Regions from separate parts of the Homo sapiens genome. Here region 2 is linked to region 1. The links come from fine-mapping of genetic effects on plasma protein levels. A gene starts in region 1. The other region holds a variant in brackets. All regions are shown on one strand. Distances are from middle to middle.

The links. PIP is the chance, under the fine-mapping model, that this variant and not a neighbour inherited with it causes the effect. The UK Biobank Pharma Proteomics Project read protein levels with antibody pairs (Olink). The fine-mapping took linkage between variants from a reference panel, not from the people measured, so its PIPs are less certain.
Region 2: its variant is fine-mapped to the plasma level of the IFNGR1 protein (UK Biobank, PIP above 0.99).

What each region holds. Positions count from the first base shown.
Region 1 is chr6:137,210,780-137,227,370 of GRCh38, forward strand. IFNGR1 (interferon gamma receptor 1) reads right to left here and starts at 8,606. Exons shown (of 7, transcript NM_000416.3): 1 at 8,464-8,606. The coding sequence starts at 8,548. RefSeq lists enhancers at 6,746-6,805, 8,246-8,976, 8,827-9,076 and silencers at 7,787-7,836, 8,297-8,516, 8,557-8,786.
Region 2 is chr6:137,186,794-137,203,384 of GRCh38, forward strand. IFNGR1 (interferon gamma receptor 1) reads right to left here. Exons shown (of 7, transcript NM_000416.3): 6 at 14,088-14,215; 7 at 10,692-11,846. The coding sequence ends at 11,238. Among named protein-coding and RNA genes, the nearest start is that of IL22RA2, 21 kb to the left of the region's middle. The variant C/T (reference allele first, on the strand shown) is at 11,197.

The DNA of each region.
Region 1 (16,591 bases):
TACTTTCATATCCCTAAGATATTTGCTTACTGCTGAAGGGAAAATCTATATTTTCCCCAAACAAAAATTCCAATATTCAAGACCAAACTGGTATATTGCCTTAATTTACAATTATTTAACACATATATTTTCAAAGCAGAACATGGATTAAGAGTTTTTTAGGTAAATAATAGGCACTAATGGACAATTAAATGCTATCACCATTATTATTTTCCTTTTCTGATTATTTTTTCCTTTATTGCAGTGGTTCTCTGTGGGAAGTGATTTTGTTGCCAGGAGACATTAGGCAATCAATGTCTGTAGACATTTTTGGCTCTCACAACCTGGAGAAGAAGTGTGTGGGGGAGGTACTGCTGGCATCTAGAGGGCAGAGACCAAGGGTGCTGCTAAATATCCTACAATGCATCAGACAGCCTCCACAACAAAAAATAATATAGCCCCAAATGCCAGCAGTGCCAAGGTTGAGAAACCCTGCTTTATGTTTACAATTTAAGTGTTCTTTAAAAAAAAAGTTGAGGAAAAACTAACTTAAAAACAGAATGCTTTACAGTAAACCTGTATATTTCATGGCTCCCCTCAAACAAATGAATAGATTTGGTTATTGCCAAAAGATCTAACTTCTATATTATTTACCAAAATGGTGTAATAATTTGGGCCAAAAGGTTGAGATTATCAAGCTGGGGAGGGTCTGAAGATTCAAATACTTCATACTACTAACTTGACCTTTTTGTGGCCAGTGACCAGACACCTAGGTTTTCTCCTTCTGCTTCCAGAGGCGCAGCTGAAGGCTCTTGGTACCTGCCATCTCTGGTTCTCTAAGCAACTTCCTTGTAGGTGATCCCTAAGGCACTGTTCTTGCCAGAGTAGCCTTGGCTCTTTGTTTTTTGTAGAGTTCCCATGGCCATTCATAGCAGGGGATACTGAGGCTTCCTTAAGAGGGTCTTTTTTCTATCACACGTTTGCATCTCAACCTCCTGAAACAACTCAAATACTTCACAATCCATATTTTAGGTAGAAATAAAAGTCATTCCTCTTCACCTGGGTTCAATCAACATTAATATCAAATAACAATCACACATATAAATATACTTTTTCAACCGGAAAACAGAGGTACTTGATGCTAAGAAAACTCATACTAAATCTGAGCCTTCCTTCGGAGACCATTTCTTCATTTTGGCATTTTTTTGCCTCTCGAGAGGCTGAGAATTTTCAAACCAGGTGGTCCTGGTTTCTTTTTAACAGTTCTTCCCATGATTGAGCAAAGTCTCACCTGTTACTATAAGACGCAAGAAGAAACCAGGTGGCACTTTCAGCACTCTGGTTAGAAACCTCCTGAGCTAGATCACACAGCTCCTCAGACATTCTCTACTTTTGGTGTCACTGAAGGCTACAGTGTCACTCAGCTTTCTGCCACTACATAGCAAGGACCCCCCTTCCTCTAGGTTTCCAAGACTGGAAATCCTTTGCTTCCTTTTAAGCTCCACTCCCCTCCTTTTGAGACAGAGTCTTGCTCTGTTGCCCAGGTTGGAGTGCAATGGCATGATCTCTGCTCACTGCAACCTCTGCCTCCTGGGTTCAAACGATTCTCCTGCCTCAGCCTCCCGAGTAGCTGAGATTACAGGTTTGCACCACCAGACATGGCTAATTTTTGTATTTTTAGTAGAGATGGGGTTTCACCATGTTGGTCAGGCTGGTCTCAAACTCCCAACCTCATGAATCGCCCACCTGGGCCTCCCAAAGTGCTGAGATTACAGGTGTGAGCCACCGGGCCCAGCCTAAGGCTCTCTTTTTAATTATACCCAGTAGGAATGGCTTTATAATGGTATACGCTCAACCTGAAATTCCTGTGAGAAAAAGGCATATAGAAGTCAATCTGCATACTAGAATATCAAACAAAGTGCATTTGTACTTAGGAAGGGGCTACTGAATCACACAATGGAAAACTACAAACAGGAGTAGGCTTGTGCAGCATTAGATTAGTTTTTAACGTGAATCAAAGTATGTTTCCTATAATTTAAGTAAAAGCCTGATATGGTTAGACTAGGACAAGGACTTAAATCATAGCTTTCAAAGCAAGACAGACAGGTGGTAGGAGGAAAATATTTCAATGGTTTATAGCAAAAAGAAATTACTACTAGGTTAAAAGAAAAACTTATAAATTTACACCAAAAGATGTAATCTGTGGTTTTTAATGCTACCAGAGGAGAAACTGTGTGGTTATTAGACATCTGCCTTTGTTTTGCCAAATATTATTTTTTGCCAAATATTATTTGCCAAAATAATATGACAGACATAAGCAGTTTTCTTAAGCTTCAGAATTTTGTAATGTGAGGTTTAAATTGTTATATATTCAGATTAAATTAATTAAGGCTTACAATTAACTTCTAATACATTTACACTATGTAAATAAAAATATATGTAGAAACAGCAAAAGAGTATTATTATCTCTGGGGCTTAAGAAAAGATCTTACCAGAGTGATTTCATGAAATAAGATAATCTTACAGATTTTCCCATCTCTTGAAAATGCCAAGATAGTTTTGTGTAACTCATGTTGCTTTTGGAAATGGACTCAGAATTATTTAGTGTATTACATCTGCATACTATCCGGAGTAAACTTTAGCTATTTTAAGATCTAATTCCCAGAACTCCCCTACAACTCACAGCTGATAATTTAAGAAAACTAAACACAGGAGAGAAGAATTTGTTTTTCCTAACACTTTAATTACAATGCAGAAAAAAAAAGGAGGGCCCTGGTTAAAGCCAACTGTTTCCTCAGAAAGCTGATAAGCCAGAAGAGACAGGATATGAAAAAAGAGAGACAACACAAAAGACCAGTGAAGATCAGCAGGTGATACAGAGCAGTGCTATCGACGGGACCATAACAATGTCACAAAGGACCAAAAAATAGCAGTCGTGATAGCTCTGCAATAAATGTTGGTGAATGTAGGGTGGATGGCAAACTACAGATACCTGCAGAGTATAGTCTGAAGACACTGGCCATTTCCTCTGCATAGCTGGGTGACAGGAACCAGGGCTGCTACCTGAGTCCATCCTGTAACCACCAAAAGCATCTGTGTCTCTTTAAAAAAGGACAGCCCGAGGAGTTCATCACCCATCTTAACACACTAGTGTAAAAAGACTGTATAAAAGGTTTGTACATCTATGGTGGAACAGGGCTATGGACTCTGCAGAAATCATCTGACAACCTGCTCACCAACCTCTTCATGGGAAGAGCACGCTGAGAAGCATAAGGAAGTGAGGATGAAGTAAACTGTTGTTCTGGATTCTAAGTCATCTGACACTACAACTCAAAAACAAATGTTTCAAATTAAAGCATCTGGATCTTTTCCTTAAGAACAACTCTCAGAGAAGATCTAACACCTTCCCCATGTTAAAGATACAGGGACAGGAATGGGGACTGTCACAAAGGTTTCATCTGCACAGCAAACAGAACCAGCATAAGAAATCCACACTGAATAAATGAAAAGTACCAAATCAAGGCCTTTGTATTTTTGTCAGAACATATTTGATTACAATCTCCCTCCCGAATGGCTTCCAGTGGTGATAAAATGACTATTTTTCTTAATGCTTTCCAACTTTCACCGTAGCAAGGAGCCGCATCCCCCAGGTTTAAGCTGAGTACAGACATTTTGATAATTCTTGCAGGTGATGTTTCAAGTGTTCATTGAAATCTTCTAATTGAAATTTTTCTTTTTAAAGAGCCAGGCATAACACATAGTGGCCTGCAGTGAACTTGTAAGTAACTAACCTCCCCTATATTTTTCCCTCGCACCACCACCAAGTTGGGGCTTATCCAATAAATATCTGCTCAGCCACTTTTCTGACTTGAAATCCAGGGCTTTATTCTTACTCCTATTTATCCAATTTCATCTAGTTGGGTTTGGTCTGGCATTAGTTCTGACTGGACCAGACCAATCTAGTCCCTGAGAGAAGTCATTTCTCAACACTAATTCTCTTTTGGACTAACTCATTCTGAATTGAAAAACAGTTGAGGAAATGAAAAAACAATGCAGGCCTTTCCAGTCTACTAAAAAACCAAACTTTTTTGTCTGTTGGAAGAGATGGAAGAATGAGTTAGCTGCTGAGCCTGTTTTAAGTTTCTCATACTGATCTGGTTAAGTTTGTTTTTTTAAAAGCCAACACAATTTCTCACATATGACTAAGGGAATTTAATATTTAAAGATATATTTGTTAAAATAATAATGCACATTATTGAATAATCCCTAACATATTAAGTATTTACTACAAGACACACAGTGTGCTTACCTTTTTAATGCATTACCTCAGATACTCATCACATCCATCCCGTGAGGGAGACAATGTTACCATACATATTTTACCAATGAGAAAACAAAGGCTTAGAGAAGTTACGTAACTTGACAATATGCAAAGTTTTGTTGGTTTTCATTAAGAAAAATGCTTCCAACATCTTTGTGATCGTTTAATAAAATAAGGGGTAAATTACCTCCATATTTAAATTGGAATTGGAGAAGACTATTTTCTGGTGACTTCAAAAGCATCTGCTTCAGGTAATGTTTCCTGATTTTATTACATTATCACAATTATATTATGGCCACTGCAAAAGTTGAACAATGCATTAAAATGAATAATTTCTTAAAAATACACAAGACCTAAACAGATACCTAGTATTCTGATTACTATGCATTAGGATAATCTAAAATAAAGGCACCCCTTTAATAAGAAAATTACAAGTAAATTCCTTTCTGTTAGGAATTCACTTCATTCTGGTTCAAACCTCATTCTGATTCTTTGTTCAATCAAAATTGAACCATTAATTACTCATCTGGTTTGTAAAGCAACTTCACTACTGGTATGCTGCCAAATTTTGTAAGATAGCTGTTTATTACTTTTCTTTAGGTTTTCATACACAAACACACACACACACACAAACACACACACAAACACGAGAGACAGAGTCTTGCTCTGTTGCCCAAGCTGGAGTGCAGTGGTACAATCATGGCTCACTGCAGCCTAGACCTCCTGGGCTCAAGTGATCCTCCTACCTCAGCCTCCCCAGTAGCTAGGACTACAGGCACATGCCACCACACAGGGTTAATTTTTGTATTTTTTTGTAGAGATGGGTTTTGCCATGTTGCCCAGGCTGGTCTTGAACTTCTGGGCTCCAGTGATCCTTCCGCCGATGTGCTGGGATTACAGGCATGAGCCACTGCCCCCAGCCTAGGTTTTCTTTTAGATAGAACCAAAATATGGTCCTTTCAAAGTCTGTGTGAATTATGAATCAGAATAAAATGAAAAAGAAAATTTAATACCCTATTCAATAAATATAATTAAAAAGTATTATCCTGTGTATTTTGAATCTCTGAAATAACTATAGAATCCAAAGAAATAGTGAAAAATTTAAACAGTACTCAGAGCTTTATCCTAAAGTCAGATAATTAGTAGGAAGCATAGCTGATAAACTGTACAAGGTCAGTGAAGAGCCTTCCAGTTGGTGTGAAGTCCAGCCTAGCTCTTCAGCTATTACTCAGAGTGGGACACTCATCTGGATGAAGAAAGCCAGTGGCACACCCTGATTCACTTAAAAATATATACTACTTTTATGTGTAAAAGTGCATGAAGAGTGAAATACTACTGATTAAGTGGCACACACAGATTTTATTTTCACTTAAGAAGTATTAATGAAAGCCCATGAATGTAACACAATACATTCCTAAACACCTGGATTTCCTGGAGACTGACTATATCACCATATTCACTTGTCTGCTTCCCTGTTCTTACCAGGTCCTCTCATCTAAGATGAACTTCAACTATAGAGTCAAGCCCAGCAACAGTAAGAATAAGGCTGGGAAGCTAAGCAAGAGCCAGAGCATTGTTGGTTTCTTCCTACTTTGGAGATTTTGTGTTTTAAATTAACTTTAAAAGAACAGGGAACACAACAAAATCTAGAGAAATGCACTGAAAAATCTAGAGAAATGTGTTAGAAATGCACTTTAAAAAGAGGGCTCACTGAAACTAATGAAAAGCAAGGCCGGGGTGCTTGTCTCTTCTAGGGGAGTCAGGAAAGGCTTCACAAAAGTGACCCCAGTTTTAGAACGAGAGGTACAGAGACAAATTCAAAAGTTTCTGCAGAATATAGAAGGCTGCAGTTGATCTTCCCACGGGAGGCAGACAGGCAATCCTCCTCCCAGAGCAAGCTACAAGGACGTGCAAATTGTGCACTCACAGGGGTCACACGGTGCACTCATAGGGCCCCGTATTCAGAAGGAAGGGCCTGGCACTTGCTTTAACGCTATGCCTGCGCTAGCGTTATCCTCTTTCTCTGCTGACATCCAGTCAGAGGCCTACTAACTCTTCCTTCTAAATGTTCTGCTAACTGTCCTCTTCTCCACTTAAACTACTTATCGACTCCAACTTAAGCAGCAGCCTCCTAATGGGCCTTGTGTTTACCCTCAAACTATTTTATAAGATGACTGGTCTTTCTAAATGGCATGTCTGATCCTGCATAAAATCATTTCCCTTTGTAATTGATAATCCAATGATGTCAGCATTAGTAAATAATGACTGACTTCAGCAAGGCATAGTGGGTGTATTATTTTGTTGGCTCAACACCTGTACTTCAGGCACGCCATTCCGCTTCTTCTGGTAACCCAACCCAACCCTCTACGAGAATGTCCTTCCCATGCAAGCTGGCACCTGAACCTAGCTGGGCAAATCAGAGCCTTTCCCTGGCATTTTGTTAGAATGGAGGAGGCTGCAAGATGTCAAAACTCAGAAGCTGTCAGCATCCATGATTCCTGCCAAGTGTGGAAAGCTGTCAATACCCAGACAGAAATAAGAAATGGAGAGTCCTAGCAGTTTGGGTTCCTGGTTCTAGCCTCTTGAGACCCAGCTGGCATCTATAATTTTCTGTTTAACTCTGGTTTTTCTGAGACAATAAATTCCTCTTTTTGCTTAAGTTAATAAAGCTAGGTTTCTTGCTGGTACACATAATATGGCAATTCATTATTTGGTTCCTACTTCTCCACCTAACCTATCTCCTCCCCTTGTAAGCTCTCACACACACTTTACAATAGAACGCTTAATATTCCACGAATTCAACATGCTATCACACCTCTGCACCTCAGTCTCTGCACCTCTGGTTCCAACACTGGGGTCACCTTTGTGAAGTCTTCACTGACTTCCCTAAAAGAGACAAGCACCCCGCCTTGCTTTCCACTAGTCTGTGCCTAAGTGCAAGCTCTTACCGCAAAGTACTGCAACTGCCCATGTGGATGACTGACTAGAGCCTAGAAGAGCAGTTAAGAACTTGGACTCTGGAGCCAAATTGAGCAGCTCCCCACTGAGTGGCTATGACCTCTCTGCCAGTTGGGCAGGCCTCTCCGTAACTCAATTTCTCGTCCATAAAGAGAGAGACAAATAACGCCTACTCCAGAAGATTGTTGTGAACACAGAACCAAAACGTGGACCTTTCAAAGTCCCTATGAATCATAAATCATAATAAAAAAAAGAAAACTGAATTGAAAAGGTTTACTGTTTTCTCTGGAGCTCGTAATCACAATTACTCTGCACTTCAGAAAAGCCACCCTCAACATTTGTTTTCTAGGAAATGTCAATAAGCAGGTGGAAATAAAATGCTCCGAAGAACAAACCCGTACGAAGAGACCTACTGCCAAATCTGCTAGTGAGTGCCGGCAATCCACCACTTCCAGACTGAGACCTAAGACGGACTGCCACTTACTTCTCAGCTGCCACTTACTTCTCAGCTGGCGACATAATGCATACTTTCCTACCCTAAGCACTTTGAGTCCCCCCCCCCACCCCCGCTAAGAAAGAAGTATTTAAGCCACGAACTGAGACCACGATGCCACATGCTGATCAGGACACTCACAGTCATGCGTCACTTAACGATGGAGATCCGTTCTGAGAAATGGAGAAATGTCCCCTTAGGCAATTTCTTCGGGCAGTAGAAACCCAGACAAACCCAGATGACACAGCCTACTGCTCTTAGGTCATGAACCTGTACAGCCTGTCACTGCACTGAACACTGCAGGCAACCGTAGCATACTAGTGAGTATCTGCGTATCTAACCATAAAAAAAGGTACAGTAAGAAGACGATATTATAATCTTTGAGACCACGCTGTCCCACATTGACCAGCAACGTCCTTCTGCAGCGCATAATCGTATTTAAAAGTGGATTACAAGAGTCGGAAAAACAAGCGGCGTGATTTGTTGTGGCGGCAACCAGGGAAGAGGCAGGAGAAAGGCAACCGACGAGTTCAAACCACGGAGCCCCAGTCTCGCGACCCCACCTCGCGTCCCCGTCGCCCGCTCAGGGCCCGACGCAGGGGTCCCGGGCTAGGGCGACCTCGGAGAAGCGGGGCGGGGCTTCCCGGCTGGGGCGGATCCCTCCCTCCCTCTCGTCCCGACCCGGCCGCAGCCCTGCCGCGAACGACGGTACCTGAGGACGGCCCCAGATCCGCGGTGCCCATCTCAGCCCTGCTCACACCCTGCATGACAAGGGGTAGGAGAAAGAGGAGAGCCATGCTGCTACCGACGGTCGCTGGCTCCAACCCCGAGCGCCTGCGGGACCAGCCCAGCACTGCCCTCCAGCCCCGGCCTTACGTCACTTCCGTCACCGGGGTCTGTGCCGGCGTCGGCAGGAGGCGGGACCAGGGCGTGGGCGGGGTCAAGTCCGGGAAGCCGCAGGAGGCGGACTCAGGCGCAGCACCCAGCAGTGAGCACGGCGTCGTGCGGTCGGGACCTGGACTTCTGGGTGTGGGAGGAATTTGAGTGCAAAGGTTAAGGTCTTTCAACCTGGCACCCCATTCTGCAATTCTTCTTCCAGTTTTTTTCGGTTTCCTGGGGTTGTGCAAGTTTGCATTAGGCCACAGCCGAGCCACAATCCTTATTTTACTAACTCTTGGACTTCACCTGGTTGTCTTGGAGCCTGACATTTTTAGAAGAGAATGAGACTTCAAAAGCCATTTCCAGTCCCTGCTTTTTCATTTGAGGAACCTGAGACTTAGCTAGTGAAATGGTTTGTGCAGATTCCCACAGCCCAAATCAAATCGGCTTGACCAAGAACTACTTTGTTCTTGGAGAAAAAAACTATTTGCATTACCTTCTCAGCAATTCAGTGTCAAATCAGTTTATCAGGCAGCCTCTCATGAAGAGGTCTGCTCTCTTACCTCTCTGGGTTTGTCTGTTATTTTGCATCTCTCCTATTCCACTGCAGCCACATTGCTAAGTCCTTCAGCGCTTGTGCTCAAACATGCGAATGTCTAATGATCTCACCTGTTTCAATTCTCTGAGTATCATGAACTTTTGTTAAAAATTTTAAATTGCAACACACCTTCTCCTCCTCCTTACCCCGCCCTACTGTTTTTTCATGGCACTTTTCACCTTGCTGTACACTATAATATACACCTTGATATTTGTTTTCTTCTCCTTCTAAAATGTAAGCTCCGTAGAGCTGACATCTTTACTTGGCACTCAATTAGTATTTGTTGAGTGAAAGACTGCATGATTACTAGTGTTAAGGAAAATTTTTAAAGAGGGAAAATCCTTATAAAGACACTATATAAACTAGAGGTATTATCAGCCAGATCATTTTACTTGTATTAATAAATCTCTTAGCTCAGTACTTCTCAAACTTCAACATACATGTGAACCATCTGGGGATCTTGATAAAATGCAGATTTGGATTCAGTAGTTCTAATTCAGGTTGGGTCTTGAGATTTTGTATTTCGGACAAAATGCACAGGGGATGCTGGTGCCCCTTTCAACAGGACCACACTTTGAATCAGAAGAATTTAGCTCAATCTAGACTAAGTTTAGGGAGAATATTTCCTTTGATGTGTTTCTGATGTCCACTATATGAAAGACACCTTCTAGTCGTTGTAAGGATGCAAGGATAAATAACTGATCTTTACCGTTTAGGCGTCTATGGAGTAGGACAAAATATGATATCCAGTTTGTAAACATTTTTGTGGTACTTGTCACAGGCTGGGTTACCCTGGCAGTAAACTCTGAGGTCGAGATTAAGGTATAAGGCATTGATTGATTAGGGAGTGCTCTTGGAATAAACGTCTGTGAAGGGGAGGTGGAGGAAGCAGAGCGGAGGAAGAAGTTGATCTGTGATGCCATCCCAGTAAAGGCTCCCAAGGGGCGCTCTGGAGTTGGGATGGCCTTGTAAAGGTGTCTTGAGTTGGTATGAGGGGCTGGGTCTTAAAGCCCAGCACTGATTAGTCATTGAATACCAACTGTCATGATTTTGGGGCTGTCCATTTCTTTCATGGAGGCATTCCCCAGAGGAACGCTGACGGTTGAGGGTGTCTACTGGCAGCCCTCCTAGCATCAGGAAGGGGACAGAACCCAGTCTTCTGTTCCTGAGAGGGATCTGGGCAAGTTTCACAATCACAGCACCCACCACCCTACGTATCCTTCTGAAGACTTTGCTAGTTAGTCATTTGGAGACTAAATATATTTATTAATTGGGTGAATATTATCAAGTGATACTGTCTGTGACTGACATGACCAGGCACAGAGATAAAGACCTGAGCAAGACAGACATGGCCCCTGCCCTCACGGAGCTTACTGTCTACTGAGGGAGATAGCTGTTAAACAAGGAATTACACAAGTACTGAAATCGTGATCATCATTCCCAAGGAGAGCAATGGGAAGAGATTAAAGGAGTATAAACAGGAATTTAACTTAGTCTACATTTTAAAGAAAGTCTTTCTTTTCTTTTTTCTTTCTTTTGAGACAGGGTCTCACTCTGTCGTCTAGGCTGCAGTGCAGAGGCATGATCATAGCTTACTGCAGCCTCAAACTCCTGGGCCCAAATGATCCTCTTGCCCCAGCCTCCCAAATAGCTGGGACTACAGGTGTACACCACCATGCCTGGCTAATTTTTTTTTTTTTTTTTGAGACAGGGTCTGACTGTATCACCTAGCTGAGGTACAGTGGCACAATCTCAGCTGACTGCAACCTCCACCTCCCGGGCGCAAGCCATCCTTCCACCTCAGCCTCCCAAGTAGCTGGGACCACAGGCATTTTTTTGTGTCTTTTGTGGAGATGGGGTTTCACCATGTTGCCCAGGCTGATCTCAAACTCCTGAGCTCAAGCAATCCGCCCACCTTGGCCTCCCAAAGTGCTGGGATTACAGGAGTGAGCCACCTCGCCTGGCCTTATGCCCGGCTAGTTTTTAAATTTTTTATAGAGCTGGGGTCTTGCTGTGTTGCTCAGGCTGGTCTCAAACTCCTGGGCTCAAATGATTCTCCTGCCTCAGGCTCCCAAAATGCTGGGATTACAGGTGTGAGCCACTGTGTCTGGATTTAGGGAAATTCTTTTTTAAGGAAGTTACCATTATGTTGTGACCTGAAGGATAAGGTAAAATTAGCCTGAATAAAGTTAAAAGATGGGGGTGGCCACCGGCTAATAAGAGAGGTAGGAAGAAGAGCAATAAACTGTATTTTAAAATCCCATATAAAAATCTCATACAGCTAACACAGAAACAAATGAGCGGTGCCAGCTTTCCTTGATAAATTTCCAATGCCTAATGGCTGGGGAATATCCAAGTATACGTTGGTCCCCACTAGAGCCTCAGATTAGTTTTTAAAATGAAGAAAACAAATTGGGGTGGAGCGTAGATCATTCCAAAGCCAAGTGTATACTGAAGTGCTGCTGCTCAGGAGCAAGGCTACATTTTGAAGACCATACTCACCTGCCTTTCAAGTTAATAGGCCAAATAAAACAATTTAAGAAGCTAGAAATATGATCCAATGAGAACAGAGCCTGTGTGTGTGGAACAAACTGTGCATTTTGGCTCTGAGCACAGTGCATTTCCTTCCTCTTTTCTCCAAAGCAGAAATGTCTGCCAGCTTCCCTTTAAAGGAGACAGCGTGAAGATTTGTAACTGAAGCATATAGTTTAAATTCCGCTGATTAGTCTGTAAATTATAGCCAATACTCTTGCCCTCTCACACTCTACCCATGCCTTTACACTGGCCCTTATTTAACTTTGTTTATTCCATAGTACTTACTACTATCTGGAGATTCTACTGGAAATTTAATATATCTATTAAATTTGAATTAAATATGAATAAATTGTATGTGTTAAATATATGCATTTTATATATATATATATTTCACAAATAATTACTGAAATTGTAGTAATTGTTACCAAGGAGAGCAACACGATTATAGGTGCGTAAACAGGGACTTAATCTGAGATTTAATGAAATGCATCCGTGTGTGTGTGCATACATAAAATATGTATATACACACGTAGAAAATTTTGTTTCAGTAGTCTCCCTCTTCCTCTAAAAAATAAATTTGTTTTCTTCACTGTCAGACCCCGAGCACCTAGCCAAGTGCCTATTACTCCATTAATATTTATGGAATATTGATGATCCTGAATCATCAATTGTATGTAATCCTGAATCATCACTGTCAGCATTGAGCAGCTGAACCAATGTCTGTGGCCACTTATTAAATAAATATATGATGAACAAAACAAGCTTGTAAAGAGGTGTGGGACTGAAGCAGGTATAGTTGAATTTATGGCTGGCTAAGCTATAATTGGGTCACTGATAAGAATTTAGAGAGATATTTGGATATCATACTGGTACTCAACAAAGCACTATCCTCTTGCCTTGCACTCAACCCTCCTCTTAGCTCTCATGCTGACATCCGATTGTATCAGACCAACCCCTGGCTTGAAGATGTTTATCCATAGACAGTCAAGTATTCTAGTAGTTGGCTTGTCTTAGAGCACTGCCTAGGGTAGATGCCACATGCTGCGTGGTGACTGTGGCAGATACTACTCATTAGCTGACTGCTAACAGCTCTTTTCGGTCCCCTTCTATCTTGCTGCCTCCCTACTGCAGAGGCTAGACAGGCTCATTACTCACTTTCCCAGCCTTTTTGGCAGCTAAGTGTAGGTATATGATGTAGTTTTGGTCAGCGAAACACAAGCAGAAGTCTGTGAGGCATGTGTGTGTGTGGTGGTCATCAGGTGTATAATGGGGAAGAGGATTGGAAAGCATTCTGTGAGAACTTTTCCTTTCTCATAGAAGGGGCAGATGCAATGGGAGAGTTTGCTGGCCTTGGCCCTTTTCCAATCTTCTTGCCTTGAATGTAGATCCAGTGACGCCTAGATCTGCAGCAGATCTTGGCAGTTTGCAACCATGAGGCAACAAGATTGAAGATGAAAAGTCAACAGCTACCAGTGGAAGAACAGGAAGTTAGAAAGCCTGAATCATCGTCAGCATTGAGTTTCTGAACTAATGTCTATGACCACCTGCCTTTGGCCTATGGGAGAAAAAAATAAACCCCTGTTGATTTAAGTCACCATCAGTTCGATTTTCTGTTAATCGTGCAGATTTTTTTTTTTTTTTTTTTTTTTTTTACTCAATGTCAGGCCAACCTAAATAGATTGGCTTTCAGAGAGTTGGAATGTAAACCATGATGGAGAAGAGGATGACTGAGTGGAAGGGAGAAAGGAGAAAAGAAGAAACAACAAACTCAAGTACAGGATGTAGAAGACTAGAATAGTAAGCAAAGAAGATCACTTGTTGAGGGGAGAACAAGAGGCCCAGCAGCCAGAGGCTTAGCAGAACTGCCATGTGCCCCGAATAGTGCTCCCTCACTGTGCTCCCTGGGCACTAGCTCATTGGCGAGGCTTTCCTCTTCTGATGTTCCCACACATCTTCACCAACATCCCTTGTCACTAAAGGTAACCTAAATGTCTCTGTTCCTTGCAACTAAAAGAGCGCAACAGGCCAGGTGTGGTGGCTCACGCCTGTAATCCCAGCACTTTGGGAGGCTGAGGTGGGTGGTCACTAGGGCAGGAGTTCGAGACCAGCCTGGCCAACATGATGAAACCCCATCTCTACCAAAAATTCAAAAATTAGGTGGGTGTGGTGGTACACGCCTGTGGTCCCAGCTACTTGGGAGGCTGAGGCAGGAGAGTGGCTTGAACTGGGGAGGCGGAGGTTACAGTGAGCTGAGATTGTGCCATCGCACTCCAGCCTGGGTGACAGAGCAAGACTCTGTCTTAAAAAAAAAAGAAAAAGAAAAAAAAAGCACAATGAATTTCATTTCTAGCCATGAAATTTTTGGCCATTTCAGCATCATAAAGGGCAGCTACCCTATTCTTTTAGAAAACATTTCCCAATATAACACTAAACACCAGGCTGAAAAAAACTGTTGCTAAAAAGAACTGAGTAATCTAAAGCAGCATGCAGTTTGTCCTCAGAGCCTCATACTTCCTCTTTCAGTGCATCTTCCCCCTCCAGTCTCCGTACTTCCTTCACCACACACCAAAGCCCAGTGACTTCTTGCTGCTTCTCAGAAGCCCAGAGTCCTCCTACTTGGAGAATACCAAAAACTTCCCTAGCTCACAAGGCTTCAGCTGAAAGTGTCTCTCCATCCTTATCTTTCATCAACATCTAGGTCAATGGTTCCGTAGCAGATGCTCTTAGATGGCTCTGGGTAATGATAGATGAACAAATTGAACAAATTAATTTATTGACATCAATATTTGATAACCATTTTGGGGTGGACACTCCTAGATATTTTGACATTCGAACAGTTCTTAACTAGAAGAACCAATGTGTCCAGTGGTGACACTGGAGGTCTTGACAAGAAAGGATACAATAAGATAGTTTGCCTTGGGCAAAAGGGTCTTTTGGGTGCCTTTCAAATCATGGTATGATGGCTCATTTTTCAAAAGGCAGGCTCAGAGCCTAAATTCAGCCAACAGATGTGTTTTGTTTAGCCAGCAGAGAGAATTCCATTTTCATTGGTTCTAGGCAGGGCACGTAGTCCTGTTAAGTTTTAAGTATCTATATTTAATGTGATTATCTTGAATGCCAATACTAGATTTCTAGAGCAGAACACTTTTCTTTTTTTTTTTTTTTTTTACTTACAGCAAATAATTTTGTCAGCTCTCTTTTGTCCCAGTTCTTATCTCTGGGGCTATGCAATGAGACCCAGATGTACATGTAGGCTGCACATGTCATCCTATATGTAATGGTGTCTACTGTAAGTGAGGACACCCTCCAAAATGAATCTGGGCATTTATATAGGAGAAAGGGCCAACTTTCCCCTCCCGCTGTGAGAAAAGACGAGAAATCCATTGCTCCCTGGTATAAACACATTCTCCTTGGGAACAGAAAGAAAGATTCTGGGAGCTTAGCTTTTGGAATGTAAATAAATTTCCCCACTGGAAAGATGAGACTAGTGTCTCTGGCTTTACATCCCAGGAGATGTTTCCATGGTCCTGGGGGTTTAATTCTTCCTTGAAATGAAAACGCAGGTATCTTTGGGGAGGTAAATTTCTCTGGCATTCTCACTAATCACTTCGAAGTTAACACCAGGCTTGTCCTTTTAGCTTAGATTCCAAGATTCAGTAAAATGGGCTCAGAAAACCCTAACTGTTCAGAAACGTAAAAATATTGTCTCTATGGCCCACAATTCCACAGTTGAACCACACGCCTATCATCTCAACTGTCTTACACTCTGCAGCTTGATTTTTGTTACCTTTTTGGTTCTTACTTGTAGGCATTTGTCAATGATGGGATTTAGAACATGCTACCCGAAAATATGGTACTTAGGCATTTGGAGAAACAGCAGAAGTGAGAAGGTGACTCTCTGACTTTTTCCCACACTTCTCCCCTGAAGCAGGTTATAAAAGAAATATCGGGGCCGGGCGCAGTGGCTCATGCCTGTAATCCTAGCACTTTGGGAGGCTGAGGTGGGTGGATCATCTGAGGTCAGGAGTTCAAGACTAGCCTGGCCAACATGGTGAAACCCCGTCACTACTAAAAATACAAAAATTAGCCAGGTGTGGTGGCACACACCTGTAATCCCAGCTACTCAGGAGGCTGAGGAAGGAGAATTGCTTGAACCTGGGAGGTGGAGGTTGCAGTGAGGCGAGATCCCGCCACTGCACTCCAGCCTGTGTGATGGGAGCAAGACTCCATCTCAAAAATAAATTCTTGGGCCTTTATCTGAAAGAGGTCATAAGGCCACATTACAGAGTGCCCTTTCTATGTCAGGAAGGAAGGAATTTTTTTTTTTTTAATCTCTGATGACACAGGGACACAGAGAAGTAGCTTACAAGCAGGCTTGCTAAATTCCCCTCAGTTTATGACCATTGGATCACAGCCTTTTGTCCTCCAAGCACACTTCTGCATGGCTGCCCACTCTTCGTCAAACCTCAGCATAAAAAAACACTTATATTAAATACATTTGTATGCGCTTCTCTTGTTAATCTGTCTTTTGTTATAGGTGCCTTGGCCATGAACCTAACAGTGAGTGAGAAAAGAATCTCTTGTCCCCTACATCATCAAGTTATAACAACCAATACTTTGGTCAAAGAATGTATACTTGCTAACATTTAGACCTTTAAAAAGAGAATTGAAATACACTCCATTTGTGTGAATGAAAAATTTATAATATGTCTTTTCGGACAAGAAATCAAACAAAAATGAAAATGTAATTTCTTACTACTCCAGATTACATAGAGGATAACTGTATCTGCATGGAAATGTATCATCTGAGAAATGGGTTCATTTTGTC
Region 2 (16,591 bases), 24 kb before region 1:
ACTCTCTTTTGCCTTTCTCATTTTTTTTTAAATTACCTCAACATTTTATTAAGGATCTGTAAGACCCACAAGGGACAGCAAATTTGATACAACTTGTCAAACAATTGTATGGTTCTGTCGGAGAAATGTCACCTGGGATGCCTATGTAAAAGGGACCTCTTTAACCCCCAAATTTACCATGACCTGGGTAATAGGCATATAAAGTGGGAGAATATCCTGGTCATCATAAAGCCAGTACCATGTGGCTTGCTTATGAATCATATCTACTGCTTCATCTGGGTTACTCCACTTGGCATTTTATAGGGAGAGTTGGGCAGTCCCTTTCTTGGGGTAAACAGACTTTACAGTGGCATTTATCCAGTCCACTAGGGTTGGATGTTCTCTCAGGAATAACCTCCTATGCATTTGGATCACTTATACTCATTAGAGATTTAATAGTGAGCTGTGGGTCATGGATCAAACTAAAGAAGCTCTTTCACTCTGTAGCATTTAAAATTAAGGATTCTATCCTTAAATTAGTTATTTTTAAATCCATTATAGTAAAAGTGTCTCAGGAAGCTGACTATACCAATCTACAAAATGGAACAATTCCTTTACATTATAGCCTCTGGTTTTAATAGTTGTTTTGCCCTGCCCCTACATTTACTATCTTCTTGGTAACCACAGGTCTCAGAGGTAAACTTTGTTGCCCCGGTTTAATTTATATTTTTGTGAGTAGCTTGGATGCTAGAGGCTTGAGCTGAGACAGACCCACTTCTGGTCTTGGTCCACTCTTAAGGACCAACCCAACACTCTTTTACTCTCATTTCAGCTTTTACAGATAATAACCAAAGGATGAAACATTTTTCTTCCTTATTAGCTTGCCTTCCCTTATGCATTCAGGGAACTAACTCCCTGGGAGTATGAGTAGGATCCATCTCTAATTCCACTGGTAACTTTTACTTTTAGTAACTGACTATAGCCCAGCTGCAGCTCCTTAAGATGGGCAACCACATGGCTACTCAAGAGTCAGGATTTCTCATTTCACACCCTTTTATTTTTTTCTTTATCCATTTAGTTTTATCTATATAATTTTTTCCTTTATTTTAGAGTGATTCATAAATAGTCTCTAGAAAAAAATTACATTTTCTTTAGCAAAAACTAGTTCCTTGTGTTTTCAGAAACCTCACCAAAAACACCTTTTATTCACCTACTAGTTTAAGTCTTATTAACTCAAATTCCCAGTGGAAAAAAAACTCATAGGTTTACTTAATTTAAACATTACATGACTTATTAACCCAAATCCCCAGTGGGGGAAAAAAGTAACCTAGGTTTACTTAATTTAAACATAACATGACTTTAAGATTTTAAATTACTGGAAATAATTGAGATTAAATTTACCAAATTAATCTTACCAAAGATTACTAGTCATGTGAGCTAAAAGGCATCTGAGCTAGGTTCCATCAGTCTGATAAGCATTAACATTCTCCAAGCCAATTGATTAGAGCTCTTTTGTACCACTTGTTAGTGAAATATCACTTCCACATGGCACATGTAAACATGTAGATATAACAGACATATAGAAAACGGCAGGTCCAAAAGATTTTTCATTTGCCTCTTTTCAAAAATTCTCTCCCCTACTTTAGATTATTAATTTAAAAAAGTTATAAGGCCAAACAAAAGTTGAAGGAGAGAGTTACCATCCTAGGCCTTTTCAAAAGCGAAAAAAGGACTGAGATATCAATTTGAATAATTTCAAAAAGAAACATTACAGAATTTAAAAATTAAAAACTTTGTGCATTGAGTAACTCAATATTTTAAATAAAATCTTGTTCTAACCAAATCTTTAGTTATTTATTAGTGTATTTTTTTTTGAGACAGAGTCTTGCTCTTGTTGCTCAGGCTGGAGTGCAATGGTGCGATCTCAGCTCACTGCAACTTCTGCCTCCCAGGTTCAAGTGATTCTCCTGCCTCAGCTTCCCAAGTAGCTGGGATTACAGGCACCTGCCACCATGCCCAGCTAATTTTTTAATTTTTAGTAGAGACAGGGTTTCACCATGTTGGCCAGGCTGGTCTCGAACTCCTGACCTATATGATCTGCTCGCCTCGGCCTCCCAAAGTGCTAGGATTACAGGCGTGAGCACCGCACCCAGTCTAGTGTATTTTTAACATAAAAGTTCAATTTAAAAAAAAGATTATAATTTTCTGTAATTATGGACAACTTAATCACATAACATTTGTATAAATTTCTTTTTTACTAACTTTATTATGACTTACACAGACCATTCACAACATGCTTGGACTTTCTGCTTTGACCTAAGTGTCACTCTTTCTGGAATAACTCGGTCATTTTATCTTAGGACAAAAATTCACCAAACAATATTTTTCTCATACAAAATTACTTTTCTTTTAAGCTTTCTTACCAAAAATACCTCTGTATATCTATACTTTTCTTTATATTGGTCTATTTCCTGGTTCCTTTCACATTCTTATTTATACAGGACTTTTAAATAAGCTTTGAATTAGACAAAAATTATTTACCTTTTAATAAGAACATATTTTAAAAAAAGAATAAAATATAATTTTTTGAATTGGAAAATACCCAGATATTTAATTAAATATCTATTATTGAATTTAATATAATTTTATATTCTAAATTATGACAAGTTTATTTACAGGTATTTATCCCTTTACATTTACCTGATTATTTTATTTTAATATTTTATGTAGACTATGAAAACTGTGATAGTCATCATTTAAAGTTATTTCCCTGTCAATGATTTTTATAGCCTATGAAGTTCAGGTGTTTACCTAAGTAAGAACCTCAGGATTAAATATATGGTTATTTTACCAATAATTCCAAGTTTAGCTGTTTTCATTAAACCAACAATATTTGATATCTTGTTTGTCAAAAACTACACAAGCAAAGATCATTCTGTTTTGGGTTGGTGTATTAGTCTGTTCTCACATTGTTATTAAAAAATCCTGGAATTGGGTAATCTATAAAGAAAAGAGGTTTAATTGGCTTACAGTTTTACAGGCTATATAGGAAGCATAGCAGCTTTTGCTTGGAAACTTATAATCATGGTGAAAGGTGAAGGTGAAGCAGGCATGTCTTACATGGCTGGAGAAGGAGGAAGAGAAGGTTGTTGGGGAGGTGCCACACACTTTTAAACAACCAGATCTCATGAGAACTTACTATCACCATGACAGCCCCAAGGGGGATGGTGTTAAACCATGAGAAACTACCCCATGATCCAATCACCTTCCACCAGGTTCCTCCTCCAACACTGGGGATTACAATTTGACATGAGATTTGGGTGGGGATACAGATCCAACCATAACGGTTGGGTTTACAGTTTTATAAACTTTATGTCAAATTTTGACACAGAGTATTTGTCAGGGATAAGTATGAAATTGCTGATCAATAAATGCAAACAAAAATATATGTTGACAATTTATAAGACATTTCTAATATTACTTGACCAATAATTTTAAGCCAGTTTATTTATAAAAGGTTTTACTTGTCACATGACCTTGAAAAGCATTTGGGCTTATTGTTTAATGTATGAGTACCCTTCAACTTTAAGCCATTTTAGTACCTTGTGGCCAAAAACACATAATAAAATACATGTTTGTACACATAAACACACATATACACACTCATACAAAGATCCTGTTGCTTTCACTTCAAAATTTTAGCTATGAGATATTAATATAAACTTACCAGTTTGCAAAAACAATAACAAAAAGAAACGGTTGGATGCAAACAGTGGATTTTATCTCAGTAGAAATGTGTTAATAATAGCAGACAAAGCAGGTGGAAAAGAAAACAGAGATAGAGAACTTAGGAACTTTAGAGTTGCAGGTTGAACTTTAGGTTCTGAATTTTCCTTGATGTAATTTGCCCATCAGTTTAAAATGCGCACAAGAACAGACCTAATGTGTAACCAGCTGGAGTATTAGAAAACCTGGCACGCCCTTCCATTTACACAACCACTTGCAAGTAGAGGCACCATGAAACGAAATGAGGTGCCTGAGAGGCCTTGTTCTTGTTTTTCCATATCCTTAATTTATTCCCCACATATTTTCTTAAAAGGAGGAACTGAGCTGTGGCCTAAGTTTTAGTTTAGTGGGTCAAAATATGCTGATTCTGGGTGGGGCTCCACAGTGTGTCACCAGTGAGTCGTTGCCACCCTCTTATGTATCTCAGTTTCTCTCTCTGGAGGTTTAGACCTCCGAGTGCTCAAAACATGGAGTTCCTACATGAGCTTCCTGGATGAACCTTTTTAAACTAATTTTGCTGGGGGTTCCCTGTAGGGCGGCTGCATTTCATGGGGTTGGTAGTCAACCCCTTAGGCTCCACCCCAGTAACCCAGGGATGCCTTTTGGCTGGAAGGAGCAAAATGCCCTTTCTTTTCAGAGCTTAGGAAACTCAGTCTGACATTTATCTACAAAAACAACAGTTTAGTTGCTCTCACAAATACACAGACAAGCCAATCGAGATTAATTTTGGGAGAGAAGACAATGAGAAAGCTCTTTAGAATGCACCTCTGAACTAGAATTAGGATCCTAAACAACAACTTCATTGGTGGGGGCAGCGGGGTGGAAAAAGCTAAGACCAGCTGTAAACTGTCCTCAGCCACTCCTAACTTTATAGCTCTTGTCTGCCATTACACACTCCAAGGTCACATCTTCTCACAGTACAAGGTAATCTCTGGTGCCCGCAAAAGCCAAGAGGGTCAGGTAATGCAATACAGGAAAGCAGAGTTTTAAATCTAAGAAGAATCTGCCCATGACTCTTGAAACCCCACAAAGAAAACAGAACACCCCAAAAGGGGGTGGGAGTGGTGCCTTTGTTCTGAGTTCTTTAAGGGGTCTGAGACATTAGAACCCTTCTGTAGATTTTTCTTGGTACCAGAGATGGTGAAGGGGGAAGGAAAAATAGAGTGGAACAAAAGTAAACAGAAGAATAACTGTTTTTTGTTTTTTTTTTTTAAGAAAGGAAGTGAACACAGAAACCAAGCACATGTTTTTGTTTTTGTTTGTGCAGCTGCCAGGAATTTTAGCCAATTCAGAGGCCTTGTTTCCCCTAATTTGGAATTCTCATTGGAATTTGACCAAGTCTGTTATAGTTGATCAAATCCTATGGGAGAAAGATCAGAACAACAAAAACCCCAACAATATGATTACTGAGTGCTCTAACGGTAAGGAGAAATTAAAACCAGCTGCTTGTCAATTTCAACTTGTAGTCATTAAGGAGAATTTCCAAGACAAAAAAATCCCAATTCTTGCTACTTACCTAGGAATAGAGCCCTGGCACAAGATTGCTCTTTACCATCTTAGAAGCAGGAAAAATACCTGGAAAGGTGCACAGGAACAGACATAAGGTTCTTGCCTTCCCTATCGGAAACTAGCTGAAACTCCAGAAATGAGTTACCTGCTATGCATCATCATGGAAGCAGAAAAACTTGCTTTCCTTGTTGGAATCAAGTAAAACTCCAGAAAAGGAGTTGTAGAGCAAAATAAGCTTTAGATCTCGACCAAATTTTGAGAGATCAGGGATTCTCTGGAGGGGGAACTCCCAGGCCTCAGCAAATTGTCCTTCTGATTTGAGCCATAAGGATAGCTCAAGCTGGTACCAAGCACCAATAGATTCATCAAAGGTCAGGGGCACCTCCACTCAGAATCCCTTCATCACCAATTTGTGAACTCAAAAGTATCTGAGACAGATCTCAATACATTTAGACGGTTTATTTTGCCAAGGTTAAGGATGTGCCCATGACACATGTGCCCATGACACAGCCTCAGGAGGTCCTGATGACATGTGCCCACGGTGGTCAGGGTACAACTTGCTTTTATACTTTTTAGGGAGGCATAATACATCAATCAATACCTGTAAGATGTACACTGGTTCAATCTGGAAAAGCAGGACAACTTGAAGTGGGGGCTTCCAGGTTATAGGTAGATTTAAGAATTTTCTGATTGGCAATTTGTTGAAAGAGTTATGTTGTTACCCAAAGACCCAGAATCAATAGAAATACCTGGGTTATGATGATAAGGGGTTGTAGAGACCAAAGTTTATCAGGCAGATGAAGCCTCCAGGTAGCAGATTTCAGAGAGAATAGATTGAAAATGTTTCTTATCAGACGTAAGTTTAATGCTGGTCAGCTTTTCCTAAGTTCCAAAAGGGAGGAGGGTATACTGAGTTATATCCAACTCTCCCTTCCCATCATGGCCTGAACTAGTTTTTCAGGTTAACTTTACAATGCGCTTGGCCAAGAGGGGGCGTCCGTTTAGATGGTTTGAGGTGGGGAGGGCTTACAATTTTATTTTTGGCTTACATAGTAAAGGTTAATTATCTCAATACAATTAGGTCATCTTCATTTTTCTTTTAAAAACTTTTGTCTTCCTTTATCTCCCTGAATACACAGGCAGTTTACTATTTTCTCATTGCAAGACCCATTCTCAAATATTATTTTCTTTTAGAGAGACTCTTGCTGTTATTTAGGTTCACAAGATGGTGTCAGAAGTGAAATAAAAGTGGCCTCACCTCAGATGGATCAGAGGCCCCTCGAATTGAGTGAAGTACCTACTGACCCCTTTGGCCCTCACCTCTTTTTATACCAGGAAAGGGACTGGCACATCTCTGGTTATGTAGCAAAAATGTCCCATAGCCCAAGGGCTGGGGTCTGACATCCAGTCTGACTACATACCTGTGTTGTTCAGCTCCACGAATTTTCCTTAAAAAGGCTGTCTGAGAAGCCAATGTGTGAGTGTTCTCTACTACTCACCTTTTATTGGTAGATATCTGCTCAATATTTAATTTTGGAGATACATTGTGGGTATTATAACATTTTATAATTAGCTCTAGAAAGGACACTCTGGGAATGTGCTAGTCAGAACATATCTCTGCCACTCTTTCCTCTCAATTAAATATCTGACACTTATCTCCTGGGCAGAGGAGATACTGGAGCAAAGAGAGCTTGGGGTACGTGGTTAAGCCTTAAAGCCCTGTAACAGTACCAATGGAGAGACCAGTTATTATTTGCAGGGCGGTGGAAGGTAGAGTAAGTATTGCATCTCATAAATGAAGCTAACTAATGACTATACAAACAAAGCTGGCACTTATTTTCTAAGTCATCCACTTATATCCTTATCAGGCATAAGAAGTGGTACCTTAAATTGGACCCAGGCAGTAATCTTAAGACAATTTAACTTGGCATGAATAATGGTTCAATAACGTGAATTTCTGGTAACCAGAAATAAGTAGGGGAAAAAAAATTAAGTTTAGACACAAAACTGTGTTGGAAAGATGATGCTTTAATTTTTTTTTTTTTTTTTTGAGACGAAGCCTTGCTCTGTCACTAGGCTGGAGTGCAGTGGCGTGATCTCAGCTCTCTGCAACCTCTGCCTCCTGGATTCAAGCGATTCCTGCCTCAGCCTCCTCAGTAGCTGGGACTACAGGTATGCACCATCACGCATGGCTAATTCTTGTGTTTTTAGTAGAGACGGGGTTTCACCATGTTGGCCAGGATGGTCTCAATCTCTTGACCTTGTGATCCGCCTGCCTCGGCCTCCCAAAGTGCTGGGATTACAGGCATGAGCCACCGCACCCAGCCAATGCTCTTACTAATTAACACAAATGGAAGCAATGACTCTTAAGAGCCAAAAGATAGAGAGAATGTAATCCAACCCTCTCATGAGGCTAAGCGATTTGCCCACAGCCACCAGGTTTGGTCAATCACTCTTGGAAAATAGCGTATACCAATTCATCAAAGTTTGAGGACAAGGGAATAAAAAACAAAATATAATATTGGTGATGAGAAGGCAGGATTACTCTTATTTATAGACAACACGTTTGTACACTGGGAAAACCAATCAACTAAAAACCATGAAGAAAAAACAGTTTAGATGTTGGCTAGATACAAAAACAACTTGTAACAATAGTTTGTGTGTGCGTGTACATATAGACAGCCATTCAGGAGCCACAATGCAAGATGACATTCCCATAGGCAACAAAAAACATAAAATATCAAGGAATACACTTAGTAAATTTTCTACACCTGTATGAAGTAAACCTCTAATGAGGGATGTAAGACTTGAAGACAGAAATAGTCTCCATTCTTGCAGAACATTCAACCCTTGAAAATATTAGTTATTTCTAAACATTTTATAAAGTCAAAACAATGCCAACATAAATCCCAAAGGAGTTTAAAATTTGGGGGAAAACTTGGCCAAAAAATTTAGGTTATAGTTCACCTAAAAAATAATTATTGCTGGCAGGGCGCAGTGTCTCACACCTGTAATCCCAGCACTTTGGGAGGCCGAGGCAGGCAGATCATGAGGTCAGGAGATCGAGACCATCCTGGCTAACATGGTGAAACCCTGTCTCTACTAAAAATACAGTAAGTAAATAAATAAATAATTATTGCTAAGAAATATGAGCAATGAACATTGGCTGAAAGTATTCAGGAAAGCCTCAGAAGTCAAAACAGCCTGTAATTGCAGCACTTTGGGAGGTTGAGGTAGGCAGATTGCTTGAGCACAGGCATTTGAAGCCAGCCTGAGCAACATGGCAAAACCCTGTCTCTACAAAAAAATACAGAACATTAGCCAGGTATGGTCATGAGCGTCTGTACTAGCTACTTGGGGGGCTGAGGCAGGAGTGTTGCTTGATTACAAGAGGTTGAGGCTGCAGTAAGCCATGTTCGTGCCACCGCACTCCAGCCTGGGTGACAAAGCTAGACTCTGTCTCAAAAAAACATAAAATATATCCCAGTATAATGTGTATTAAAAGTGTGATACATAGACGGGAAAAGACTGAACAACAAAACTGTTCCAGGAGTGCTGAGAATTTGGCATGTGATAAATGTGACATTTGAAATCAGCATAGAAAAGTTAGATAATTTAATGAATAGTATTTGGGATAACTAATTTGTTAAGGGAAATATATGAGTTGAGTTGTATCCTCAAAAAGATGTGTTGAAGTCCTAACCCCTGGTACCTATGAATGTGATCTTAACTGGAAAGTGTCTTTACAGATGTAATCAAGTTAAGAGGAGGTCATACTGGATTAGAGTGGGACTAATCAATCCAATTGACTGGTGTCCTTATAAAGATCTGGACACAGACATACAGAGAAGAATGCCAGGTGACAAGAGGCAGAAATTGGAATAATGCAGCCATAAGTCAGAGAATATCAAGGATTGACAACAATCACTAGAAACTAGGAAGGGGCCCTCCACCCCTAGAGCTTTCAGATAGAATCTGGCCCTATTGAAACCTTGATTTCAGACCTCTAGCCTCTGAACTGTGAGATAACAAATTTCTGTTGTTTTAAGCCACCCAAGTTTGTGGTAATTTATTACGGCAGCCACAGGAAACTAAAACAAAAAAATAAAGCTGGATCTCTATCTCTGTCCTCAAAGGAAAAAAATCTAGATGGATAGAAGAATTAAATGTAAAACAATCATCACCAAAGACCAGAAGAAAACATGAGTGAAAACTTCTATCTTTTGGGGAAAGGGGAAGGGCTTTTTAAAAATAGAAGGAAATAAATAAATTTGACTTTATAAACAACTTAAACATCTGTGTGGTAAGTCAAAAGGCAGGAAATTATAAAATAAATCTGTAACTCAGGGCAGATAAAGGGTAGTAAGAAAGATATAAACAGCCCATAAAAAAATGGACAAAGAACAAGATGAGTTGGCATGAAACTATAAATAAGATATAAAAACATGCTCAAATTTACTAAAGAAATGCAAATGCATTTAATGTGTAAAGTGTTTTACCGAGATTAAAGACTTATTTCAGTCAATTAGCTAGGGTGTAAAAACAGGTACTTCATTCACATTTGATGGGAGTACACATTGGTATAATCATTTTGGAGGGTAGTAAGTATTACCTCTTCCTTGGCTATTTCAATTATTTTCATATTTTTGCTTTTCCCATTCTAATGTGTGCATTGTTCATGTAGTTTTTTTTTTTTTTTTGTAATTTTCCCACAAGAGAGATCAAAGTCTGTTGAAGGATATTACTTTTGTGGAATGTGATATGTATGGGGTATCAGTTTGAAAAGCAATTTACAAGACATTACCCTAAAATCAGTGACTATACCAGTTCCACTGCAAACCACACCACTACTTTTTTCACTGATAGTATCTCATTTGTAATTTGCATTTTTAAGTGAAGAGAAATATCTTTCCAGAAACCAAAGAAATGTGATTTGCTACTCATGTAAATTGTATTTCATTTTTTTTGGTCCATTAATTCACAGATTCATATTAATTTCTGAATATTTCTATCCTCTTAGTAATTCCAAGAAATCCTTGGGTAACATATATATTAACTCTTGGTTTGCCTCTCACTGGGGATTCTTTCCACACCATGTAATTCTCAAGGTTCCATCCATTTCCATGGCTCTGCCCACCACCTTTATGCTAGATTCCTCAATCCACATGCTCTACAGCTAAATCTTTTCTTCTCAAACCACTTAGAACAGTGTTCTGCACACTGGGTGTTAAGCACTGAAATATAGACCTATAAGGACCATTTAAAAATATTATTTTTAGGGTTGTTTTAAATATTAAATATGAACAATTAGCAAATAATCCTATAGCATTAATGCATGGAAACAAGCAGTGGATATAAAAATATTCTGCTTAACTATGAAAGACTGCCTAAGTGCTTGAATAAATGAATACAAAAACGAGTTTTAAAATTCTTTATTTAAAAATCTCTAACTGTAATGTTTCATAAAAAATATACACGTTTCTATTTACATATTCCATTAATTCTATTAGTTTGAATTAGATTTTAAGTCCAATTTTGAAAAGCTTGCAGAATTTCTTCTGAAATTACTTAAAATTACTGTATGCATAAACTTACAAAAACATATGCTATACCAAGGCAGAGAAAAGAAAAAAAGTGAAGTGGCTACAAAGGTCCCTGGGGCATCACCTGCTCACCTAGGAACCAGGAGTACTGGATACTGTTCCGTTACTGGTAACCTATCTGGATGTAAAGGTTCATAAGTTACAATGCTTTTTTTGTTTAAAAAAAAAAAAAAGTCTGTACTTTACAAGCCAAAAGTGAAAATGCCACACATCCTCTTTACGCTTTCATGTACACTAAGTCACTCCATTTGGTTGATACCAACTAAGATACAATTTCTGAGATCATAATCTTTTCATGAAATTAAAGCAGAAAACTGTC[C/T]AGGAAAATCAGACTTCAAAGTTGGTGCAACTTAGCTGATCTCATGAAAATTCTTTGGAATCTTCTGTTGGTCTATAACCAATCAAGGACTCTTTACCGCTATCATCCACAAGTAGATCCACTAGCACATGTGGTTTATCATAACCAAAGGAGGTGGGGGCTTTTATTACGGTTATGAGCTCTTGTCCTTCTGTTTTTATTTCACCTTTATTATTTGGGGGAAATTCTGAGTCAGATAAGGAGCTATGTGATTCCAGACAGCTGGAATCAGTATCAAAACCATTTCTGGAGTGATCACTCTCAGAACAATTTCTGGAGTGATACGAGTTTAAAGCGATGCTGCCAGGTTCAGACTGGTTACTACTTAAAGGTGAAGAACTCTCTCTCTCTATTGGAGTCAGATGGCTGCCCGGGACCACGTCAGGAATATTTTCTTCAGTAGTCACCACTTCTGTTATACTAGAAAGTTCTTCTGTATGTTCCACTTTTCCTGGATTGTCTTCGGTATGCATGCCTGGAACTGTTGCTGGAGACAACGGCTCTTCACAGACCACCTCCTTTTCTAAGGAAAATGGCTGGTATGACGTGATGAGTGATACATATTTTGATTCAGGTTTTGTCTCTAAAGTAGCACTTCTTACCACAGAGATCTATGGGGAGAAAAATTGATTAAAGATAAAAAATTGTTAAGCTTAAGTGCCTACCCTCAAAAAAAACAAAGGTCTGAAGTAATGGACCACCAAATGGCACATTTAGGATAATGGGTGAATCAGATGTTGCCATTTCTTTTTAATGAAAGGTCCCATAGTAATATTAAAAACAAAGTTTTAGAATTTTTAAAAAGCCATCAGATATCTTACTAATATATGTTGCTTTTTGTACGTTACTGTGATGGTTAATACTGAGTGTCAACTTGATTGGACTGAAGGATACAAAGTATTGATCCTGGGTGTGTCTGTGAGGGTGCTGCCAAAGGAGATTAACATTTGAGTCAGTGGGCTGGGAAAGGAAGACCCGCCCTTAACCCGAATGGGCACAATCTAATCAGCTGCCAGCATGGCTAGAATGTAAGCAGGCAGAAAAATGTGAAAAGAGAGACTGGCCTAGCCTCCCAGCCTACATCTTTCTCCCATGCTGAATGCTTCCTGCCCTTGAACATCGGACTCTGAATTCTTCAAGTTTGGAGCTTGGACTGGCTCTCCTTGCTCCTCAGCCTGCAGATGGCCTATTGTGGGACCTCTGATCGTGTGAGTTAATACTAAATAATACTAAATAAACTCCCCTTTATATATATATATATGAAAAATATAATTAATATATATTATATAATATATAATTTATAATATATAATATATAATTTATAATTTATAATATATTATATAAAATATAATTTATATTACATAAAATATATAATTTATAATATATTATATAAACATATAATTTATAATATAATATATAAAATATATAACTTATATTATATAAAATATATAATTTATAATATATTATATAAAATATATAATTTATAATATATTATATATAATATATAATATATATTATATAACATATAAAATATATATAATATATAATATATAAAATATAGATTTATATAAAGGGGAGTTTATTTGGTATTATATATATATCTTTATATATATATTCCATTAGTTCTGTCCCTCTAGAGAATCCTAATACAATTATCTTCCACATGTACGCACATTATGTTTACAAAGTGGGCACATCTACTTAAGTAATATTCTCATTACTTGCCTTCATCATTATAATTTTTAGTAGCTCATATTATTTCTTTATACTGATAAATAATTTAATAGATGGGGAAATGTTTCCAATTTTTACTAGCTATGGAACATGTTAAATATCCTGTACATCTTTTTATTTATGAAATTATTTCCTTATAATACATTTTTTAAGAGTGGAGTGACCATATCAAAGAAATGGTATGTTTACGTCACTATTACACTGAATACCCACTGTGTGCTTTTATTCTTACCAGGGCTAGATTACTTTTCACCAGCATTTACCCGTTATGCTACTGCTGGTACTACTGGATATCCAGGTTTCTTTTTTCTTCTCTAGCGCGTGTAAAATGGCATACTGCAAGGTTACTTTGTGCTTAATTACTAGTAAGAATAAAATATTATAATTCATTTGTGAGTTGACTACTAACTGTTGAGAGTTCTTATCCACTTTAAAGGTAGTTTATAGCAAATTTTAATGTGCCCTTTGAGCATCACAGATATTATTCCTGTCATATTTGACTCAAATAGATACTATTCTGTTACCTTTAAATGTTCTTTACATCAAAGGCTTTGAAATGTTGGACATTAAAATCGTCAAACTCCTACGTTAGTCTCATTTTTGGCCAACTTTCCTTTCATACTCCAACCATAATGAAGTGTTTCTGTATTTGCAGAGCTTTCAAAGTCATGCTTTCTTGGCTCTGGACCTCAGCACATTCTGTCCCCTAGTGCCTAAACTCCTGTATGTCCCTCAAGACTGCTCAGGCATTGCCTCTGGAAAAGCCATGACTAACCCCACCCCAAAGCTGGACAAAGTCCTCATGGGCTCAGGTATAAATCTTTGAATCTATCACACGTTATATAGCCAATGTATATTTATCTTTTCTTCCCCCTAGACTTTAAGATCTTTAACAGAATTGTCTCACCGTGTTTTTCCCTGAGAATAAAAAAAAAAACAAAATACTTGCTGCACAGCAAAAGACACAGTATGTGATTTTGCATGTGTGGTAGACTGACTGATTGATGGCAGGTGACATCTTGTTGAATATCATTCTACTTTAAAAACATAATTTAAGAAACTATCAAAAAAGGTTCAAGTTAACTTTTTAGTGTATATAAAAAAATTAAATACATTACCAAGGACTTGGGTAATATTATGCTTTTTTCCTTCAATGGATTAATTTTCTTAATATAAAAACAGATGAATACCAGGCTAAGCACTAGAAAGAGTAGTAAAGCAGCAACAACTGGAATCCAAAGAGAACCTTAAAAAAGGCAGAAATCACAAGTTACAATTAAGATGGAATACTGCTATTATCTATCAAAAAGTCTTAGTGCCATTCTTGAATAGATTTACAAATTAGTGAATAGGGCCAGAGTTTTAAAGAACACTGAAGGAAGCAGAAGTTAGGAAATCTGAGTAAAAAATTAGGTATCTGTCTTAGATAGCAATATGGTTCTTCCCAGCTCTGCAATTCTAGAACTTTCTGGGACTATTCTACTATGACACAACATAGTTAAAATAGCTTTTCTACAATAATTTCCTTACAGCCCTACATACAGTGTGTTTCCAGGGTTATGCATTTCTTTCGGTTAAAAATGCAAAAGAATAATTTTAAAAATACCTCTCCTTAGAAACAAATTCTGGCAGCTGGGCACAGTGGCTCAAGCCTGTAATCCCAGCACTTTGGGAAGTCGAGGTGGGCGGATCACGAGGTCAAGAGATCGAGACAATCTTGGCCAACATGGTGAAACCCCATCTCTACTAAAAATACAAAAATTAGCTGGGTGTGGTGGCATGCGCCTGTAGTCCCAGCTACGTGGGAGGCTGAGGCAGGAGAATCGCTTGGACCTGGGAAGTGGAGGTAGCAGTGAGCTGAGATTGTGCCACTGGACTCCAGCCTGGTGACAGAGCGAGACTCCATTTCAAAACAAAACAAAACAACAAAAAAAAAAAGAAAGAAATTCTGGCAATGTTTATTGCTCTTAAGATGATTTAGCCCCACTCCTCAGAATTTCCTGTTACATTTATTTCACGACTGCAAATACTTATAAAGCTTCACAGATGTACATGCACACAGCAATGCTGCACAGGAATAAAGTCCCCTTAGTTATAAACCAGACATAAATAATATAAAATAGGAAAGATTTGTTTCCAAGCACATACATCTAGAATCACCATTGTGTACTTTGCTGTAATGCTGCCTTTTATTTTTGCAGCACAATCTTCAGTATTTTTTTTTTTTCATAGTTCTCTCTTCCAAATTAACAGCACTCTAACATACTGTGACAATGTCCGGCATCCTTTAGGGCATTTTGTTACCCAGAATTTTCTAACTATGGAAGTTACTAATGAATGCTTCTATTACGCTTATTACAGGGTGTGAAAAAAGTTAAATCATTACAAAAGTAAAAAGGAAAATAACTACAAAACCAACATTAGTGCTGTTAGAAGTCCCACGGGCTGAGCAAGTGCTGGCTGCAAGGCATTGAGGCAAGCAGGCAGGGCTGCTGCTCAGGAGCCACGGCAATGCCACCGTGTGGCCATACTATCAGTGCAGTGTATAATTCAGGCTAAAAACAAATCTGCGGCATTTGCATTATTTCAAATTTTGAGCATTAAGAAGGGTTTTATTTTTCAAATAGCATAACGAAAATTAGCATAAAATGCATTGCACTGCTTTAAATCACCTATTTGAAACCTTCATATAATGGCTTGAAGTTATTAGTATTGAATTTTAGGTGTTTGTTCTGGCTCTTCAGCCTATATTTCCATTCCTCGAAAATATACTTGCATCATAAAATTTTAAACCTATGAAATCTATTCTAAAAAAATCCTAAGGAAAAAAATATATGTATACACACACACACACACACACACACACACACACACACACACACAAAGATAATCATCAAAGCATGAGTTACAATATATGCTTAAAGCAATACACAAAATCATATATACTATACAATATGATCATGTCTATGTAGAAAAACTAAAGAAAATATCAAACTGTGAATAATGGGGTATTTTTGCATGGTAGAACTACAGATTATTTTGTTTTCTTCTGGTTTTTCATATTTTATAAATTATCTATAATGAACACTTACATTTCCTAACTGCAAAGAAAAGTCCAAACTTCTTTAAGGTTCCTGACACCTGAGAGTAACAGTTCTAAAGTTCAAGTTCTAGCATATATATCTCTACCTCCCCACCCCCCACATTAAAAGATGAAATAAAATTAATTATTGTAAAATGTTATAAAAATGACCCATTATCTATTATTCAAACCCATCTATAAACTTTTTTGGATATTAATCTCGAGTCTTTGTCCAGTCCACGTCATACAGTTGTAACCAGTGATCGTTCCTGCTCTTCAGTCTTTAAATTACAATCCCCATAAAGAACATTTTAGTGGATTCACAACATCTTGCTATGGTGAAGTAACAAACTGACTTATAATTCATAATCCTGAAATGCAAACATTTGTGTAGTTTTATGTACTTATTATATATTTTTTCTTTCCTGGGTCAAGGGGCCATCACATGGCTTTCCAAATTAGTTGTTCTATATCTTTAAATGTGTGAGAAACTGCTTTATTTTTAATTTTGAACTTCTCTAAGGAATGGAACTAATGCAA